2 separate regions of the Homo sapiens genome follow, and region 2 is linked to region 1. Evidence: fine-mapped expression QTL. Tissue or cell type: subcutaneous fat. Region 1 holds a variant in brackets; the other region holds the start of a gene. All regions are shown on one strand. Distances are between the middles of the regions.

Evidence for each region. PIP is the estimated chance that this variant, and not a neighbour inherited with it, causes the effect.
Region 2: it holds the start of CCDC88C, and the variant in region 1 is fine-mapped to the expression of CCDC88C in subcutaneous fat (TwinsUK, PIP 0.92).

Annotation. Positions count from the first base shown.
Region 1 is chr14:91,347,604-91,350,447 of GRCh38, forward strand. All of the region lies in intron 4 of CCDC88C (coiled-coil domain containing 88C), which reads right to left. Among named protein-coding and RNA genes, the nearest start is that of CCDC88C, 69 kb to the right of the region's middle. RefSeq lists an enhancer at 1,659-1,738. The variant A/G (reference allele first, on the strand shown) is at 1,285.
Region 2 is chr14:91,416,444-91,418,943 of GRCh38, forward strand. It overlaps CCDC88C (coiled-coil domain containing 88C), which reads right to left and starts at 1,377. Exons shown (of 30, transcript NM_001080414.4): 1 at 1,188-1,377; 2 at 295-395. The coding sequence starts at 1,247. CCDC88C-DT (CCDC88C divergent transcript) reads left to right here and starts at 1,803. Exons shown (of 3, transcript NR_184261.1): 1 at 1,803-1,897. It also overlaps the pseudogene LOC112268126. RefSeq lists enhancers at 1-252, 1,858-2,500 and a silencer at 873-1,792.

The DNA.
Region 1 (2,844 bases):
CAGAGAAATGCAAATCAAAACCACAATGAGATACCATCTCACACCAGTTAGAATGGCGATCATTAAAAAGTCAGGAAACAACAGGTGCTGGAGAGGATGTGGAGAAACAGGAACACTTTTACACTGTTGGTGGGACTGTAAACCAGTTCAACCCTTGTGGAAGTCAGTGTGGCGATTCCTCAGGGATCTAGAACTAGAAATACCATTTGACCCAGCCATCCCATTACTGGGTATATACCCAAAGGATTATAAATCATGCTGCTATAAAGACACATGCACACGTACGTTTATAGTGGCACTATTCACAATAGCAAAGACTTGGAACCAACCTAAATGTCCAACAACCATAGACTGGATAAAGAAAATGTGGCACATATACACCATGGAATACTATGCAGCCATAAAAAATGGTGAGTTTTTGAGATGGAGTCTCGCTCTGTCACCCAGGCTAGAGTGCAGTGGTGCAAGCTCAGCTCACTGCAACCTCTGCCTCCTGGGTTCAAGCGATTCTCCTGCCTCAGCCTCCCGAGTAGCTGGGATTACAGGCGCACACCACCATGCCCAGCCAATTTTTGTATTTTCATTAGAGATGGGGTTTCACCATGTTGGCCAGGCTTGTCTCAAACTCCTGACCTCAAGTGATCTGCTTGCCTTGGCCTCCCAAAGTGCTGGGATTACAGGTGTGAGCCACTGCGCCCAGCCAAGACCCTATCTCTATTAAAAAAAAAAAAAAAAAAAAATTAGCCTGGCCTGGTGGTGCACTATTTGGGAGGCTGAGGTAGGAGGATCGCCTGAGCCTGGGAGGGTGAAGCTGCAGTGAGCTTTGATTGTGCCACTGCACTGTAGCCTGGGCGACAGAGCAAGACCCTGTCTCCAAAACAAACAAATAAACAAAAAACACCACAAAAACAAACAACACTCCGAGGCTGTTTGGTGACAGAGCAAACGGTTCTACTCTCTCAGCACCCTGCAATCACACACAATGACAACCCTGAGTTCATTCATTCCCTCATTCATCCCAACACCCATTAGACATCAAGAAAACAATCTGACCCACAGCACAGGTTAGAAGAGTATGGATTCCTGTTTGCTAAGGTTTGTAACAGGAGGGAAAAAGGCTTTAAAGGTAGAGAATTAAGTTTAGAAAAATATTCATGAAAAAAATAAACTCTTTGGTGATGAACAGGTTACTAAGAAATTCACCTCTGCCCTCATTCAAATGAAGCAGAGTGATGCTTGCTCTCACCAGGCTGAGTGAATAGAAACATTTGCTTATTAACAAAA[A/G]CATCCTGTGATCCCCACCCCTACAGATTCCTACAAAATTTTTTTTTAAAAAGCGCCCAGGGCGGGAAGCAGAAGTTTCCTCATTTCTCATGAGAAGCCGATGCCCAATTTCTTTCAGGATTTCAGTCATAAGAAAAACCGCTATTTCCATAAATCTACCAGATTGTGGGTTTTGAATAGTTTCAAAACACAGCAGAAGATTCCCTCCTGGGTCCTTGCCAGTAAGACTGGCTCAGTGACACAGTCAAGCAGGCCAAGATCAAACAAACCTACAGACAGCTCCCTGCCAAGTACCTACTATGTGCTGGGAGCCAAACCAGCAATCAGAAAGCTGATAAATGCTATGGGAACCCGGGAAAGGAACTTCTAATTTGCAGCAAGGCCCAGGGCAAGGACTCTAAAGGGAATAACCTTTGAGCTGAGTTCCACAGATAAGGAGGAGACAGACTTATCGGGTAGGCAAGTGTGGGCTTTCCAGGCCCAGGGAACAGCACATGCGAAGGCCAAGAGGTAAGAGAGCACGCTGCTTGTCAAAGTATAAGTGCTTTATGGTTACACTTACTCGAGCTGCTGTTCAGAGGGAGAAACGGGGGCAGGTTATAAAACGACGTGAATTTCTACACCAAAAAAGTCACAAGCAACCACTGCGGGCGGGGATCGAGAAACATCAGACCGGACACACTCCACACTTAACACAACTACACTCTGTTGAGAATAGGAGAACCCCTGGGGGAATCCCAGGACGGCCTGAGTCAATAGCTGAGTCTAAGAAAAACCTTACCTTACTACCTGCTTCCTGGAGTCTTGACACAAAGAAATTCACCCCAGCCTTTCTTAGCAGAAATGCAATGCAGGCAGGCCAACATAAGCTATATAGAAAGCTGCAGACGTTAACAGTCATAAGCTTCCAAAACAAAAGGGAAACTGCCTGATAGCACACGTTTCTAAGGGCAGAGGTGAGGATAGAAAAGTAGTTGCACAATTAAAATACACCATCCTCTAAAATGTGCATTATATCAAGGTTTGAAAATTCCCCGACTTGCTAACTCTGAGTCCATGGCAGACATGATTAGTCAATCACAGCACTTTCTGACTTAGGGTGGAACTAGGCCTCAGAATCCTTCTGAACACAGCCCTCCACAGACTACCAGTTAATGGAAGTTAACACATGGAACAAAACCTATCTTCCTTCCATGACTGGTACATAATGTGTATAGTCCTTTTTGACTCCACTCTGGTTCTTTAAGCTGTAGTCATGCACATGTTCAGAAGACACTTTTTTTTTTTTTTGGAGACAGAGTCTCACTCTGTCACCCAGGTTGGAGTGCAGTGGCACAATTTCGGCTCACTGCAAACTCCGCCTCCCGGGTTCAAGAGATTCTCCTGCCTCGGCCTCCCAAGTAGCTGGGACTACAGGCACCCACCACCACGCCTGGCTAATTTTTGTATTTTTTAGTAGAGACAGGGTTTCACCATGTTGGCCAGGCTGGTCTTGAGCTCCTGACCTCAAGTGATTCATCCGTCTTGGCCTCCCAAAGTGCCGGGATTACAGGTGTGAGC
Region 2 (2,500 bases), 69 kb after region 1:
CCACAATTAAGTCCTTGAGTCTGAAGTCAATTGCACTATCTACACCACGTAAATGACAGTCATTCAATTCCAAATTTCCTTCATCAAACCAACTGCCAGACCCACTGTCCTGGAGTTCTTCAAACACCTACGAATGTCCAACAGGCACGTTAATACTGAGATACCAGCGTCTCCACCTTCAGAGAACTACCCCCCACCCCACACACACCCCGCCATGCAACCTTCCACTCCATTTCTACTCTCAAACTTTCTAACGCACCATTCTTTCCTTCCTCCGAGAAGAAGGTAACTTACATTTGCAGCATAATTTGGTTCAAAAAGATGCCGTCCACTAAATCCATGTACATAGTCAGGTTGTCCTGGCTGCCGCTTCCAAACGGGCCAAAAGTTTTCACCTGCGGGGAGGGGGACGAGGAGAGAAAGACAGGAAGTCACCCCGTGCGCACAAACGGTCCAAAGCTCTCCCAGGCAGAGACTGGACGGGTCAGTGTGAGCAGAAGGGGGTCACCCACGCCCACACCACCCTTCAGCAGGCACCAAGCCCGGCCTTCTCCTAGGGCCTGTCTCCCCTCCCCGCGCGGGGCAACAGACACGAGACAGGAGGAAAAACTTCCTCGCCACTTTTCTCCCGCGTTCCAGAGCGGAAGAAATAAAAATAAAAAGGACTTTTCAATAAATGTCTCACGTCTCAAATCCATTGTAAATCAGTGCGCCCACCCCAGTCTGTTCGCTTTCCCATTCGGCGCCCCCCATTCCCCACCCGTCACCGCCATCCACCGGCTGGTCTCAGGGATTCAGAAAAACTACATGAGATATTTGGTTGGGAAGAATGGGGTCCTTTTCGGGAGTGGCTAAACCCCAGGGACAGGAGTGACCACTGGGACCCGGTCCGCCCCGAGGCAGCCAGCCTAGAGCCCCAGCGGGAACAGGTGTACCCGCCCGGCTCCTGGCCCGGCCGAAAGCGCGGCGGGGTCCCGCGCCGGACGCACAACGGGGGCGCCGGCTCCAGAGTTACAAAGCTCCGGACTCCAGGACGCGGCCCCAACCCCGGCCGGGAGCCACTTGCTGCGTCCCTCGCGCCCCGGAGCCACCCGGGGCCCCGGCCGTGTCGGGTCTGCGGCGTCCCGTCGCCGGGCTAGAGAGAAGCCGGTGCACCAACAAAGGGGCGGGGAGCCAGGCGCACTCACCCAGGTCACCAGCGGGCTCTGCAGGAAGAGCTCCAGGAGCTCCGAGACTGTCACGTCCATGCTGAGGCTGCGCCCGCCGGCTCCGCGCCCCCCGCCCCGCGTCCCCGTTCCCCCGCGCCGCGGCACAAAACGGCTCCGCAGCGAGCAGCGGGCGCGGGGCTGCGGCGGCTCGCGCCCGGGAGACAAAGGCGGGGCGCGCGAGCCCACGTTCCGCGGCTTCGGCGGCCCCGCGCCCCGCCCGGGTCTGGGGGAAGGGGAGGGCCAGCCGCTCGGGGAGGAACAATACGGGCGGCCCCGCCCCTCGGCGGCCCTGGGCGACCGGCGCGCCGCCTCGCGGTGCCAGCCCGGGAGCCCGGGAGCCCGGGCGCGGGACCAGGCTACGCGGGGCGCTGGGAGGGGACTGGTGGCCCGAGGCGGGTGGGTCGCGGGGCCCGGCTCCCCGCCCGTGGGACCGCGCGCCCTCGCCGAGCGCAGCCTCCCCGCGTGTGGGGCCCCAGCACGTGGCGCATCCCTGCGCGCGTGCGCGTGCAGCCGGGGCCCGAGCGCCACGTGCGAGCTGGGGTGCGCGGGCACTGGTGCGTGCCGGGAGCGGGGACGCCCTGCCCTCCGAGGTTGCTCTGCCCTCCGAGGTCGCCCGCAGCTGCCGCCCGCTCTGGGCTTGGGGACCTCGGCCCTGCGCCTTTCCGCACTCCTGGCAGGTGCAGCCCCAGGTACAGTCAAGAGGCCCCGCAAACCCCCGCTCCTCACGCTTGTGCGCGGCGCGATAAACGCGCCCCGACCCTGGGGCTGGGCTGGAGGGCAAAGAAGAAACTTTATGTTGAGTTTAGGCCTTAGGGGCGCGGCCCCTCGCGCCCTACCGTGCCCCACCGTGCCATGTTCCGGGCTGCCTGCCTTCTAAAAGTTCCTGCAGGAAGCAGGTGATGTGGCCTCCCCGACCCGGGCCCGCCCCCACCACTTTGCCGGAGGCGAGCTAAATTCCAGCCGGGGTTCCTAGCAGCAGCTTAGTGGCAGGCGACAGGAAAAAGGGCAAAGGCCCCAACTGGCTGGAAGGCAAGCCCGGGGGCAGGACCTCCTTGCGGGACGGCACGAGGCAGGAGCCGGCTCCAGGCTGGTCTCGGCCTGGTAATAATTTCACACCACCAGCCGGTCATTGTTCAAAGCACTGTAGACCATTTTACTAATTTAACCCTAACGATCGCCGCATTTCGCAGCTGGGCCAACTGGTACAGGGTTGACCCGAAGGGCCCTGCGTGGCGCTTGGCAAGTATACAGCAGGCACTAAATGGCTGCCGACAGGCTCGGTGGTAATTTTG